2 linked regions of the Homo sapiens genome follow. The protein of the gene in region 1 purifies or fractionates together with the protein of each later gene. This does not show direct contact. Each region holds a gene or a part of one and is shown in the gene's direction. Other genes may lie near its edges. The genes, in order: ZNF146 and TIPRL.

The links.
Region 2: the proteins of ZNF146 (region 1) and TIPRL purify together in Homo sapiens (affinity purification with mass spectrometry, with the first as the bait; one large-scale study listed by BioGRID). This does not show direct contact.

Annotation. Positions count from the first base shown.
Region 1 is NC_000019.10:36,221,596-36,225,419, forward strand, and holds part of ZNF146 (zinc finger protein OZF), read left to right. Parts: intron 1-3,824.
Region 2 is NC_000001.11:168,192,300-168,196,123, forward strand, and holds part of TIPRL (TIP41-like protein), read left to right. Parts: exon of another isoform or gene 1-96; intron 97-3,824. UniProt on the Homo sapiens protein: May be a allosteric regulator of serine/threonine-protein phosphatase 2A (PP2A). Isoform 1 inhibits catalytic activity of the PP2A(D) core complex in vitro. The PP2A(C):TIPRL complex does not show phosphatase activity.

The DNA of each region.
Region 1 (3,824 bases):
ACTTTTTAAAAAATGAATTTGATTACTATTGAAGTAAGTAATGCATTTCTGTGATTCAACAAAGATCTATCTCACAGAGATATCTCATTCTGCTCCCTTCCCCCAGTCACATTCTTCTTTGTCTTATGTAAACATGTCTTGTTTTTTTTTGTTTGCTTCTTGTTTATCCTTCAAGTGGGTTTTTTGTTTTTTGTTCTGTCACTATTATATATTTCTCTTCACTCCTGTTTCCCTCCACCTTACATAAAAGATAGCATACCACATGCACCTCCCTATATCTCACTTTCTTTAATAACAGTATGTCCTAGAGATAGCCCTTCCTTTTTTCTTTCTTTTTTTTTTTTTTTTTTTTTTGAAATAGTCTCGCTCTGTCACCCAAGCTGGTGTGCAATGGTGTTAACATGGCATACTGCAGCCTCCAACTGCTGGGCTGAAGTGATCTTCCTGCCTCAGCCGCCTGTGTAGCTGGGACCACAGGCACACTCCACCACACCTGGCTTTTTTACTTTTTGTAGAGATGAGGTCTCACTGTTTCCCAGATTGGTCTCGAACTCCTGAGCTCAAGCAGTCCTCCTCTCTTGGCTTCCCAAAGTGTTGGGATTACAAGTGTGAGCCACTGCACCCAGCCAAGGTGTTCCTTCTTAATCATAATCTTTAAAAGAAATTTTTTTTTCAGCTGCTGTATAAATAAGATGTCATTATTTGGATGCACCATGGTTGATTCAGTTAATCCCGTTGTTGAGCATTTGGATTGTTTCCAGTCTTCTGCTGTTGCTAACAATGCAGTAATGAATAATTTTTTTATGTGCGCCATTTTATACTGACACAGGAGTAGCTCTAAACTAGACTGCTATTAATACAAATGGCGCTGCCCAGTGGGTAAGTACTTACACTCCCACAAGCCATGTGCGAGAGCGTCTTCCCCTTAAACTCACCATGAGTGTAGTGTCGAATATTTGGTATTTCGCTAGGGACATAAGAGACAATCTGAACTTCAGTGTAGGTTTCATTTACATCCCTTCTTATGAATGAGAATTTTTTTTTATATGTTTAAAGGCCTGTATGTATTAATCTAGGAACTGTCTATTCATATCCTTTTCACCATTTTTCTATGGGGTGTCTTCTCCTTAGAGGAGCTGTTTATAAATTAGAAAGGTTAGCCCTGTATGAAATGAGTGGTGGCTTTTTTTTTTTTTTTTTTTGAAGTTTTCATTTGCATTTGGACATTGTTCACAGTGGTTTCTTTTTTTTTTAATCTTGCAGAAATAAGAGGTTTTGTTTTAATTTAGTAATAATAGTTTCTTTTTTTACATAGCCGTGCTTAGAATGAGCCCCCTGTGGTTGGTGAGCACAGAGACATCCCCGCACCACACCAAAGACCTTTTTATTCATGTATTTTTTAGAGGCACAGTCTCACTGTGTTGCACAGGCTGGCCTTGAACCCCTGGGCCCAAGCAAGTCTCAGACTCCCAAGTAGCGGGGACTACAGGCAGTGCACCACCATGCTGCTATGGTTTTCTTTTTATTTTCAAAACTTTTGGCTGGGCGCGATGGCTCACGCCTGTAATCCCAGCACTTTGGGAGGCTGAGGCGGGTAGATCACTTGAGGTCAGGAGTTTGAGACTAGCCCGGTCAACATGGTGAAACCCCGTCTCTACTAAAAATACAAAAAATTTAGCCAGTCATTGTGGTGCACGAGATCACACCACTGCACTTTAGCCTGGGCAACAGAGTGAGACTCCGTCTCAAAAAAAAAAAAAAATCTAGTTACATTTTTTTCTTTTTGAGATGGAGTATCTCTCCGTCCCCCAGGCTGGAATGCAGTGGTGCGATTTCGGCTCACTGCAAGCTCCGCCTCCCGGGTTCACGCCATTCTCCTGCCTCAGCCTCCCAAGTAGCTGGGACTACAGGCGCATGCCACCACGCCTGGTTAATTTTTTCGTATTTTTAGTAGAGACGGGGTTTCACCATGTTAGCCAGGATGGTCTCGATCTCCTGACCTCGTGATCCGCCCGCCTCGGCCCTCCAAAGTGCTGGGATTACAGGCGTGAGCCACCGCGCGTGGCTGATTCATCAGTCTTTTATGGTTATCAGACTTTTCCACTCTTAAGTTTCACCGATATTTTCAAATTCTTATAAAGTTACAGTTTTTTGTTGTTTGATTGTTTTAGAGTTGGATCTTGATCTGTCACCCAGGCTGGGGTGCAGTGGCGTGATCACAGCTGACTGCAGCCTTCATATCCTCGCTAATTTAAAAAAAAAAAAATTGTAGAGATAAGATCTCCCTGTGTTGCCCAGGCTGGTCTCAAACTCCTGGGCCCAAGTGATCCTGCTACCTTGGCTTCCCAAGTCAGAGCAATAGTTTTTTTAAGATTTTGTTTTTATTTTAATTTATAATCCATTTAGATTTTATCCTGGTGTATGCTATCAGATATGCATCCAGCTTTACCTTTTTCCAATTGGCTACCACGTTCTTTGACATCATTTATTAAAAGGTCTTACCTGGCTGGGCACGGTGGCTCACGCCTGCAATCCCAGCACTTTGCAAGGCCAAGGTGGGTGGATCACTTGAGGTCAGGAGTTCGAGACCAGCCTGGCCAATATGGAGAAACCCTGTCTCTACTAAAAATACAAAACATTAGCTGGGTGTGGTGGCACATGCCTGAATCCCAGCTATTCGGAGGCTGAGACAGGAGAATCGCTTGAACATAGGAGGGCGGAGGTTGCAGTGAGCTGAGATTGTGCCACTGCACTGCAGCCTGGGCAACAAGAGCCAAACTCCATCTCACACACATTAAAAAAAGGTCTTATGTTTACTATTTTTAGGATGCCACTTTGATTATATACTAAATTCTCACATTTATTTGGTCTGTTTCTGGGTGTGAGCAGAAAGACTGAGGACACTGCTATAGCCCAGGTGTAACAACCAGGGAAAATATTTATCTTTTTACTATTGAGGCTTTATCATTGTGTTTTACTTTGTGGTATAGCTAGTCTCTTAATTGCTCGTCCTTTTCAGTGTTTCCTGGCTATTCTTGCCTGTTTATTTTTCTTTGTAAATTTTAGGATTAGCTTGTCTCGTTCCAGAGGGGGAAAAGGTAGAACTAGTTTGTTACTTTTATTGGGATTGCATTAAATTTATAAAATAACTTGGGAATAGGGACATTTTTATGACATTAAATATTCCTCTTTATGTACGTGATACGTATTCTCGTTTCTTTTTGGGTCCTCTAGGGTGTTTTAAAATTTTTTTCATACAGGTTTGGACACTTCTTACTAAGTTTATTTCTGGATGTTTTGTTTTATGTTGCTATGAATGGAGTCATTGTTGGCATATATGAAGCTGTTGATTTCTACATACTAATATTATTCCCTGCTTTCCTTAGTTATTTGTAATTAGATTATATAATTGAGGCAGTAGGCATCCTTGTCTGTTTAGAATCTAATAGAAATGCCTTCAGTGTTTTTCTATTACTTTTATTATCATGATTTGCTTTTCAGTGTTTTTACATTAGATAAGATACTGGCTTTTGTGGTCAGATACAGATTATGATTATATAAATATAGATTACCCATGCTGCCTGGGTCAGTGGGAGTGTGAGCAGAAAGACTGAGGACACTGCTAATAGCCAAGGTGCAACAACCAGGGAAAATCTGTTGATTGAGGAAACAACAATCCCTCAAAATTTCGTTATTGCATCCTTAAACAAAAAATCAAATGGGACAAAAATAAGATGTCTATTCCTATTCTTCTGTTTTCTGTCGATTCCCTTCTTTTGGGTGACTGTTTCTTTACTCATTTCCTCTGTTTATCTTTTGTGGTC
Region 2 (3,824 bases), on another chromosome or scaffold:
CGCACCACTGCACTCCAGCCCTCCAGCCTGGGCGACAGAGCAAGACTCCGTCTCAAAAAAAAAAAATAAAATAAAATAAAAGAAGTAGAAAACACACATAACAAGTATGGTTATTCATATTTCTTTACCACTGCATTATAATTGGGTCTCTAATACTTTCCAGAAATAACTCAACTGAAACTTTTTACTAAATGCCTCATTCTTTAAGACCCAAAGACCCAGCTAAAATACCACCTTTTCTACAAGGCCCTTCACAACTCCGTTACACAGAGTTAAATATCTCTTTTCTATACTCCTTTTTAAAAACCTCTCAATTAGGCCGGGCGCGGTGGCCCATGCCTGTAATCCCAGCACTTTGGGAGGCCGAGGCGGGCGGATCACGAGGTCAGGAGATCGAGACCATGGTGAAACCCCGTCTCTACTAAAAATACAAAAAATTAGCTGGGCGCAGTGGCGGGCGCCTGTAGTCCCAGCTACCCGGGAGGCTGAGGCAGGAGAATGGCGTGAACCCGGAAGGCAGAGCTTGCAGTGAGCCGAGATCGTGCCACTGCACTCCAGCCTGGGCAACAAGCGAGACTCCGTCTCAAAACAAACAAACAAACAAACAAAACAAACAAAAAACCTCTCAATTATAGCATTTGTCATGAGATCTGTCAAAGACAGAGACCCTAACATCAAACATTGTTCTTGGGGCATAATGATTGTGGATGCTGTGATTTAAAGAATGAAAATAATACAAAAGCAGCAACAGATTTGTTTTAAAGTCAAATTTTAGCTACTTGGGAGGCAGAAGCAGGAGGATTGCTTGAGCCCAGGAGGTCAAGGCTACAGTGAGCTATGATGGTGCCACTGCACCCCAGCTTGGGAGACAAAATAATTTTATTTTTAGATAAATAAAAAATTTTATTTTTCTTATCTAAAAATAAAATTAGTTTTTTCGGTGGAATCAAAGGATTTTGAAATTGTAGTGAATTTTTAGAGAATCATTTTTTGTAGCCTCCATATTTTATAGATAAGGCCTAAAAAGATAGCTTAAGGTCATGAAACTAATTGCAAAGTTTTCTTTGTATCATCTAATATATATCATTATTCTAGCATTAGATAGTTGTTTTCATAGGCTTTACTTCTTTGCTCACTTATAACTCTAAATTCACTTTTTTTTGTTTAGATTTATTCTCTCTTCAGTTCACCTAGTCTTGTATCTTTCCACTTGTCTACCACCTGTTGAATTGACTATGCTAAATGTTCATTATGAGTTTGCATACCTGGGTGTGCATTTGTATCCAAGGGGGTATATATATCATGTCTATAAGTGGGTCGGTATTTGGAAAGCACATGTGGTTTTGTGGATGGAGTTGCTTGAAAGGATATGTGTATAAATATGTGTGTACAAGAATACATAGTAAGTCTTAAACTGAAGAGCATTTTTTTAACCAACTACTTTAAGCTGAAGTATTAGTTCATAGATATTACTATCCTGTAGTGAAATTTGTAGATGATTTAATCCACCTACTTTGCAGCAATCAACATATTTTAACTATAAAATTAAAGGAAATTGGTTTAGAATAAAATATATTTTAATACTTAAATGCATAATATGACTGCACCAAAGACATAATGAAGCAGTCAGGTACTTATATTTGCATATTGAGTCACCGTAAATGTGACAGCAAAAAATGTAGGCTGACAGAGATGTAAGGTATCAATCAGTGACTCTTAACACAATTTTCCAAAATGATGAACAACTCTTAGTGAAGTTCTAAATAAGAAAAAGTATAATCTTTCCTTGATTTGGAAAATAGTTGACTTCCTGGATAATTGAGTGATTTTTTTTTTATTATCTATGTAAAATGGAAATAGTTTCTAAAGTCAGATCATTATAAGTAGGCTTTTTCACCTCTGTGAATGCCTGGTAAGATACTGCAAGTTTTGTGGAATGCAGGACTGGACTTTGTTGTATAGGATTGTCCTGTGCATCCCAGATCTGTCGTTCTGGTCCTTATTCACTAACTGTTGATATTGGTTGCTTATTGATGTGACAAGAAAAAGTACTCTCACAAATTCCCAAACGTCCCCTAGGAAAGAACTACTGCCCTAAAATATGCTATTGTATTGGCACTAGAGTTCTGGTCTCCTAATTCCTACTCTCTCCACTGTGCCATGCTAAAATGATATTTCAGTTTACTGCCTGTGTTGTGTCCAGTGTGACTGTTGGTAACTAATTTTGAAATTTGAAGAAATGTTGCAAGTCAGTTTTTCCATAAATTACACATATCACTGTGTAGTAATGTCAAATAATAATGATGTGCTTCTCAATTTGTTGTGACATCAAGTTGTCATAAGTCAGGTTATTTCTACAGCTTTCCTTTACTAAAAGTCTTTTTTTTAAGTCTGTTGCTGATAACCCCATCAGAATACACTTTGGCTCAGAGCCTTTTCTCCAGCAAAGGTATTAATACCTTCTAGCTTCAGTTTTATCCGGAAAATGGTTAATGAGCACCTGCTGTGTGCTAGGTACTTTTCTAAGCAATAGAGATGTGGTGATGAACAAAGCAGATATTTCCACCACCATGGAGCCTACAGTCAAGTGGAAACATAAATGAAGATAGTTACAAATCCGTTAATTCGTAATGGAGTGCTATGAGAGAGAATACCAAGATAAATCTATTGTGGTATGGAATGGTAAGAAAGGCCCCTCTGTGGAAGTGACATGTGTACTGAAATCTGAAGGACAAGTGAACATTAGCCGGGAGAATACTCCAGGTAAGGGAAGAGGGTGTGTAATGGTCCCAAGGCAGAAAAGAATTTGGCCTGTGGCTGGTGACTCTCCAGGCAGTTAAGTCACTGTCATTACTGGGTTATCCTGTTATTTCTTCTTTCATCATTAATGTAGCCCTGTGCTTATATGTAAGATTATAGGCAGTTCCCTGAATATATGTTATTATTTCATGTCTCAGTACTTTTTGTACATGCAGGTCCCCTTTCTGAAATTCTCCTTCCCATCTCTAGCTGTTCTTTCTGTGGTCAGCTCAAGCCTTGTCTTATCTGATGTTCTTCAGCAGACTTAGGTACTTCTTTCTCAAATGCTTATTGAGCCTTGTGCATACCCATTATAGCAGCTACCACATCTGTTTGACCTTTCCCTGGCTGATAACCTTTTTGAGCATTGGGATTCTATTTTTTCATTTATATAAATCCAAGACTTACTATAGTAAGAACTTGGTGTTAGTAGACAATAGGTATTTATTCAGCAAATGGCCAAGCATATTCATTTTAATTAATTAATTAATTTTGGGACAGGGTCTTGCTCTGTTGCCCAGGCTGGAGTGCAGTGTTACAATCATGGCTCACTGCAGCCTATCTCCCAGGCCCAAGCCATCCTCCCAGCTTAGCCTTCCACGTAGCTAGGACTACAGGCTTGTGCCACCGTGCTTTGCTAATTTTTTGTATTTTTTGTAGAGATGGGGTCTGACTCTGTTGCCCAGGCTGGTCTTGAACTCCTGGGCTCAAGTGATCTTTCCACCTCAACCTTCCAAACTGCTGTGATTATAGGTGTGAGCCACCATGCCAGCTAAACATATTCATTTTAAAGACCCAAATACCTCACATTCCATTCAACCGCTCTCTCCCCGCCACCAGGACCCACCTTCATACTTTCTCCACTGATTCTGCCTATCATTAGTAGTTATACTTGGAAAGCAGAGGAATTTGTAGATGTGCCACAGATGAAAGATGTTAAGAATGTGTTATAGTGTTCTGATAAACCAGGTCTTTAGCAATATGTAATAGTGCCTACAGGTTGCACTGAATTAGAGCATTCTGTG